Homo sapiens: one gene and its partner. Each later gene encodes a partner of the first gene's protein in a complex. Each region holds a gene or a part of one and is shown on either strand. Other genes may lie near its edges. A codon is read from its position in the direction of its gene.

Region 1 (3,754 bases):
AGAAACCGTGAGACTCAGTCTCCTCCTTCTCTTCAGCATTCCATGTCTGCGGTTCCTGGCCGACATCCACTTCCTAGTAAGCTTTTCTTCTCTGCCAGCTTTGTCCAGACTCAAAGGATGGGATGCAAAATACATATGATATCTTTAACTGGTTTCCATGGGAATTTTATGCTTATGAGAATTTTCATAAGCTTTTTTGAAGACATTAATATTAGGATACAACTTAAGCCATTTCCTATTTAATATTTATGAGAAAAAAGGAAAACATTATTTCCCTTGACAGGTTGAATTCTGTGTTTTGAGTCTTATTTACGAGAGTACTTTCACACAGGTTCTCATTTGCCCCTTTGTCCTCCTGTTCCTTTTGACTTAGGGTACTAGTCTGTGCTTTGTACTCGTCAGTACGTGCTTAGCCATTCTTTATTATTGTTCCAGGTCCAAAAAACACAAGTAATAAGGAAATATCACGGGACACATTGCTCACTATAGAAAATAATCCATGCCACCGTGCACTTTTCACCTCCAAATCAGAACACAAGGATGTGGTTGATGGTAAGATTTCTGAATGTGCTAGTGTAGAAACCAAGCAGCCAGCTATACTTTATCAAGTGGAAGATAACAGGCAGATAATGGCACCAGTTACTAATAGTTCCAGTTACTCTACTACTTCAGTTCGTGCAGTTCCAGCTGAATGTGAGGGACTCACCAAACAAGCAAGCATATTCATACCTGTGTATCCATGTCACCAAACTGCCAGTCAGGCTGATGCACTTATGTCCCATCCTGGCGAATCAACTCAGACTTCTGGTAACTCTCTTACAACTCTGGCATTTGATCAAAAGCCTCAAACCTTATCAGTACAGCAGCCAGCTATGGATGCAGAGTTTATTTCTCAAGAAGGAGAAACTACAGTGAACACTGAAGCAAGTTCTCCTAAGACAGTCATTCCCACTCAGACCCCTGGCCTTGAACCAACTACCCTTCAACCCACTACTGTCCTGGAATCAGATGGAGAAAGACCTCCAAAACTGGAGTTTGCAGACAACCGAATTAAAACTCTGGATGAAAAATTAAGAAACTTGCTCTATCAGGAGCACAGCATCTCTAGCATCTATCCCGAGAGTCAGAAGGATACCCAAAGCATAGACTCTCCATTTTCTTCCTCTGCTGAAGATACCCTCTCCTGTCCAGTGACAGAAGTCATAGCCATCAGTCACTGTGGAATTAAAGATAGCCCTGTACAATCCCCTAATTTCCAACAGACAGGCTCTAAGCTTCTGTCCAATGTGGCTGCAAGTCAGCCTGCTAATATATCAGTGTTCAAAAGGGACCTGAATGTGATAACTTCTGTACCCAGCGAATTGTGTTTACATGTAAGTATCATTCTTTCTAACCAATTCCTTACTCTTTGCTTATTGTTTTAAAGAAATGCCTTCTCTTCTAAAATTCTGTCCTTTGAGATGAAATGGTCTATGTCACAAGATGCTGAGGTCACAGGTATTTAAGAAGGCTATGACTTAGGCTGCAGGTGTTCAGAACCTCTCAGTAGAGATGACAAACTATCTTTGGTAAGAGAGCCCTCTGGTGAATTAGCTAAGAACTTGCAAGCAGTGTCTATATTTGTATTAATGACAGAATGAAAACTGACTCATGGATTGTTTTAGTGGGTAGGAAGAACTTTTAGATTTTCACTTAAAATGCCAGTTATCCGTTTCCTTCTTTAAAAAAAAAAGTTATGGTTTTTAATTTAATCATGTTTGGGGGGATTTAATTTGACAAAAAAAGAGAAGAAAAGAAAGTAAAAATCATCATTAATACCATGACTTTTTTTTTTTTTTAAACCCTAGACGGAGTCTTGCTCTGTCGCCCAGGCTGGAGTGCAGTGGCATGATCTCGGTCTGCCTCCCGGGTTCAAGTAATTCTCCTGCCTCAGCCTCCTGAGTAGCTGGGATTACAGGCACGTGCCACCACGCCCGGCTAATTGTTGTATTAGTAGAGACGGGGTTTTACCATGTTGGCCAGGCTGGTCTCGAACTCTTGACCTCGTGATCCACCTGCCTTGGCCTCCAAAGTGCTGGGATTACAGGCATGAGCCACTGTGCCTGGCCTGACTTATTTTATGAGTTATATAATGTAGGAACTTTAATTTTCCTTTTCTGCCCCTTCAAATCACAAAAGTAACCACTAATAATTTGATGCTTATTCTTCTTGACTTTTCTTAAGCTTATACAGATCTATTTACATACATATAACATTATATTCATAAAAATACTGTGCTGTATACATACTGTTCTGCAACTTAATTTTTTCATTTTACAGTAGATCATGGACATCTTTCTAAATCTTTATTGCTGTATCTTTTTGTCATTTTTGTTATTATATAAGTAATAATATATACTTGTACATAGTATATATGTACTACGTACAAGTAAAATCCACCCCATCCCCAAACCTGTAGACACAGCTGTTAACAAATCTTTCCAGACATGATTTTAATTAATATACAAATATTTATAAAGACATACTTTTTATATATGATATATTGTATCTTTATATAGATATAGATACATGTTAATATTTATATACATATACTTATTTACATATATGCTATTCTGCATTTTTTTCATTTATGGGTATCTATCCATGTCAGTACACATAGTTCCATCTTACTCAACTTTTTGAAACAACTGCATAATATTCCACTGATACATATAATTTAAAGATTTAAAAATTTTTTAAATTATTTTAAATAATAAATATCACATAATGTGATTCGAATCTTAAGAAATGAACTGTTATTTCTGTCATTTAAACTTTGTTGCTTGAAGGAGACTCTCCCAAGTGTCAAGGTCAAATGAATTCATTTATTTGTTTCAAGTGTCTGTTGCTATATCTGGATCATACTTAGCTGCCACTGTTTCTGGTGTCATGGAATTCTTCTTTTTTCCCCTAAAATACTTCTATGAGTAATATTTTCAAATATATTGCATGAGTATCCTATTTGGTATTCTTTTGCATGTCCAAAAATGTCTTTATATTGCTTCACACTTGATTGACTAAGTACAGATGGTAGGATCAGAATTTTTTCTTCTCAATTTAGAAGACAGTGTTTTATTGTCTTTTATTAGCCTTCCTGATGAGAGTGATGTCAGTTGTTTATCATTCATTTGTAGGTAACCTGTTTTTACTCTAGACCACTGCAATGCTCTTGTACTTTTTACAACGTGGAAATGTTCTGTATCTGCACTATCCAATACAGTAACCACTAACCAGATATGACTATTGAGCACTTGAAATGTGACTAGTGCAACTGAGGGCCTGAATTTTTAATTTAATTTAATTAATTTAAATTTAGACAGCCACATGTGATTAGTGGCTACTGTATTCAGTTAGCACAGGTCTAGTTGCTCTTAGGGAACTATCTTAGAGCTCTGATTATCAGACTGTATCTTGGTATATCACTTTCCCATTCATTTTGTATATCACTTTTGTGGATGTTTCGAATTTGAAGATTTGTGTCTTTTTTCAGCTCCGGTAACTATTTTCATTTCTTTTTTTTCTTCCCCTTCATTGTCTTGCTTATTTCCATTTAGAAATTGTAGGAGATATATGGCCTCTTGGATTATTCCCCATGTTTCTTAACAGCTTGCTCTCACTTTTAATTTCATTTTTTAAAACCTTATGTTCTCAGATATGTCTTCAGTTTTTTTTTTCTTTTTAAATTTCAGATCACTCTCTTGGTATTCAGCTGTAT
Region 2 (3,754 bases), on another chromosome or scaffold:
TCTGTCCATCAAGAAAGCACATGTGACCAAAAAATCTACTGAGTAAGTAATCCTGTTAAATAGATTTGCATTTGGTGATATTTATTTAGTCTACAGCTAGTGTGACTCCTCCCCCTGTTCCCACAGAAGAGACCATCCCATTGCATTTTAAGACTAAATTTTAAACCCAAAATGTTTGAATTTCTGCTTTGGGATAGCTCAAATGCCAAATTTTTCCTCCTGTGTCCAACCTCACTCTCAGCCCTCAGCCCCCAGCCCCAGGCAGAAATGATGCTCTTGGGTAGCAGCTTAATGGTATTTTAATTTAAAAGTAAATGACGGCACCTCAGGGCTCTTGTGCATGGCTCAGAGATCACAGGGTAGTCTGCAGAAAAATTCCAGCCACCCTGGCCCACAATGTACAAAGAACACTCCATTCACACACTCTACCTGCCAAGGTTGTGGAAGGGGTAGAGACAATGGCTAAGACAGGTTTTGGGTTCTCATTGAATAATAATTTTCCATATTTACTTCATCTGCTATGTCAAGCCTTTAGCCAGAAAGATGGTCTGCCTGCCTATAGCTGGGGGCCTTCTAGCTTTCCATCTATCTGGTGCTGGTGTCTTGTTCTAGAGAAAATTTAACCTAATTCATCAGCAAGATTATGTTGAGCCCCAGTGGTGCCAGGCCATAGCTTTGTGCTGGGTATTTGCGGGTACTTATTTAGAAAGACGTTAAGTGTTTGCTTCTAAGGAGCTCATGGCTTAAGAGCAAGTAGAATATGTGAAGAAATGTGAAGGATGCTTTGCTTGGTTGAGGAGTAAGTTGGTGGTCCCCTGGAGAAAGAGGGAACAGAATTCTGAGGTAAGGGTGCCCCAGTTGGTTGCAGATAGGGTTTCAGCTGAGCTCTGGTTTCATGCCAGTATCCCTGGCACCACACTCAGCCACTTTGTCTATTGCAGGGAAGCTATATGCTGTTGGGGGTTATGATGGAGCTTCCCGCCAGTGTCTGAGCACTGTGGAGCAGTACAACCCAGCGACCAATGAATGGATATACGTGGCGGACATGAGCACCCGCCGCAGTGGCGCAGGTATGGGAGAACCTCGGGGTGCTGGCTGTGTCTGATTTGCTCACAAGTGGGTCCTTAAATTTTTTTGTTTTATTTTAGATTTAGAGGGTACATGTGCAGGTTTGTTACATGGATATATTGCATAATGGTCGAGTTTGGGCTTCTAGTGTACCCATCACGCAAATAGTGACCATTGAACCCAATGGGTAATTTTTCAACTTTCACCCTCCTCCCAGACTTATCCCTTTTGGAATCCCCAGTGTCTATTGTTCTCATCTTTATGTCCATGTATACCCATTATTTAGCCTGTACATATAAGTGAGAACATGCAGTATTTGATTTTTTGTTTCTGGGTTATCTCACATAGGATTATGGCCTCCAGCTCCATCCATGTTGCTGCAAAGGACATGATTTCACTCTTTTTTTGGTTGCATAAGATTCCATGGTGTATACATACTATATTTTCTTTAATCAGCCATTGATGGATACTTAGATTGATTATATGACTTTGTGGTAGTCAGTAGTGCTGCTTTAAACATAATAACTGTACATGTCTTTTTAATATAATGATTTCTTTTCCTTTGCATAGATACCCAGTAGTGGGATTGCTGGGTCAAATGGTAGTTATATTTTGAGTTCTTTGAGAAATCCCCATACTGTTTTTCCATAGAGGTTGTATTAATTTATATTTCCACAACAGTGTATAAGCATACCCTTTTCTCTGCAACCATGCTAAAGTCTTTTTTTTTTTAAACTTTTTTTTTTTTTTTTTTTTTTTTGAGATGAAGTCTCACTCTGTTGCCCAGGCTAGAGTGCAGTGGCGCTATCTCGGCTCACTGCAAGCTCCGCCTCCCGGGTTCCGCCATTCTCCTGCCTCAGCCTCCCGAGTAGCTGGGACTACAGGCACCCACCACCATGCCCGGCAAATTTTTTGTATTTGTAGTAGAGTTGGGGTTTCACCCTGTTAGCCAGGATGGTCTCAATCTCCTGACCTCATGATCCACCTGCCTCGGCCTCTCAAAGTGCTGGGATTGCAGGCATGAGCCACTGCACCCGGCCTTTTTTGACTTTTTAGTAATAGCCATCTGTAAGATGATATCTCACTGTGGTTTTAATCTTCATTTTTCTGATGATTACGATGTTAAGCATTTTTTCATATGATTATTGGCCACACTGGCATGCCTTATTTTGAGAAATGTCTGTATGTATATCCTTTGCCTGCTTTTTAATGGGGTTGTTTTTTCCTTGTTGAGTTGTTGGAGTTCCTTGTATATTCTGAACATTAATCCTTTGTTGGGGGGCATAATTTGCAAATATTTTCTCCCATTCTGTAGGTTGACTGTTTGTTGATTATTTCTTATGTTGTGGAGAAGCTTTTTTTGTTTGTTTAATTAAGTCCCATTTGTCTATTTTTGTTTTTGTTGCACTTTCCGTTTGGCATCTTAGTCATAAATTGTTTGCCTAGGCCAATGCCCAGAAGAGTTTTTTCTAGGTTTTCTTCTAGGACTTTTATAGTTTCAGGTCTTATATTTAAGTCTTTAATCCATCTTCAGTTAATTTTTGTATATGGTAAGAGATAGAGGTCTAGTTTCATTTTTCTGTATGTGGCTAGCCACATACAACACCATTTATTGAATAGAGAGTCTTTTCCCCATTGTTTTATTTTTGTCGACTTTTTTGAAGATCAGCTTGTTATAGGTATGTGGCTTTGTTTCTGGGTTCTCTATTCTGTTCCATTGTTCTCTGTGTCTATTTTTGGTACCAGCACCATGCTGTTTTAGTTACTATAGCCTTGTAATATAATTTGAAGTCAGGTAATGTGATACTTCTGACTTTGTTCTTTTTGGTTAAGATTGGCTTTGGCTATTCGGGCTCTTTTTTGGTTCTGTATAAACTTTAGGATTGTTTTTTCTAATTCTATGAGGAATGATGTTGATAGTTTGATAGGAATTGTGTTGAATCTGTAGATTCCTTCAGGGAATATGGTCATTTTAATGATATTGATTCTTCCAATCCATGAATATGGGATGTTTTTCCAGTTTGTGTAATCTGTGATTTCTTTAATCAGTCATGAGTGGGTATTGGTTCAACAACTTAACATTTTATTTTACCTCCTCCTCCTCCTTTCATTTTGCTGTATATAATCCTACTAGCACCTTTGCAGCTAGACACAGTACTTTATAAGTTAACCTTTCCTGGGGGATCACTAGAGAATGGATGAGATAATACGCTCCTCCTCATCATACCTTATGTTTCTATGAAGGTGTTTATATCTTTTGAAAGTTAAGGCTTACTATGTGCCAGGCACTGTCCTAACAAGTACTTTTTATGCCTCAATCCATTTAATCCTCACTGCAGCCCTACGAGGTGGATACAATATGAATTGCACTTATCAGATTTAGAAAGGAGGTCTGCCAGTGGTTGAGTAATTTGCCCAAGGTCATATAATTAGTAATGCTGACTCCAGAGTTAGCTTTTTAAATCCCTAAATTATCAGTCTTATTCCTCTGAAGTAGTAGGACAAGTCTTCAGTTGACAAAGCTGAGCTTGCCTGTCTGGAATTGAAAGCCAAGCTATTAGTGTTCATGTCTGGAGATAACTTATGTCCCCCACTCCCACTTTTCCTCACTTCAACCTATTCCCCAACATGTGAAGAAAATGACTTTTCAAAAGGTTTTCCACTTCTACTTTTTGTCAGAAAACCA

The links.
Region 2: the proteins of WNK3 (region 1) and KLHL3 are in contact, whole or in part, in a crystal structure (PDB 5NKP), measured with the Homo sapiens proteins. Residues at the interface, in NP_065973.2 of Homo sapiens: Glu537, Cys538, Glu539, Glu540, Thr541, Glu542, Val543, Asp544, Gln545, His546; in NP_059111.2 of Homo sapiens: Lys312, Arg339, Phe355, Gly357, Arg360, Thr386, Phe402, Gly404, Ser405, Gly407, Ser432, Ser433, Tyr449 (codon at 965), Gly451 (codon at 971), Arg454 (codon at 980), Cys456 (codon at 986), Ser481 (codon at 1,061), His498, Arg528, Tyr577.

The regions. Positions count from the first base shown.
Region 1 is NC_000023.11:54,246,316-54,250,069, reverse strand, and holds part of WNK3 (serine/threonine-protein kinase WNK3), read left to right. Parts: coding exon 1-76; intron 77-435; coding exon 436-1,373; intron 1,374-3,754.
Region 2 is NC_000005.10:137,631,353-137,635,106, reverse strand, and holds part of KLHL3 (kelch-like protein 3), read left to right. Parts: intron 1-941; coding exon 942-1,070; intron 1,071-3,754. UniProt on the Homo sapiens protein: Substrate-specific adapter of a BCR (BTB-CUL3-RBX1) E3 ubiquitin ligase complex that acts as a regulator of ion transport in the distal nephron.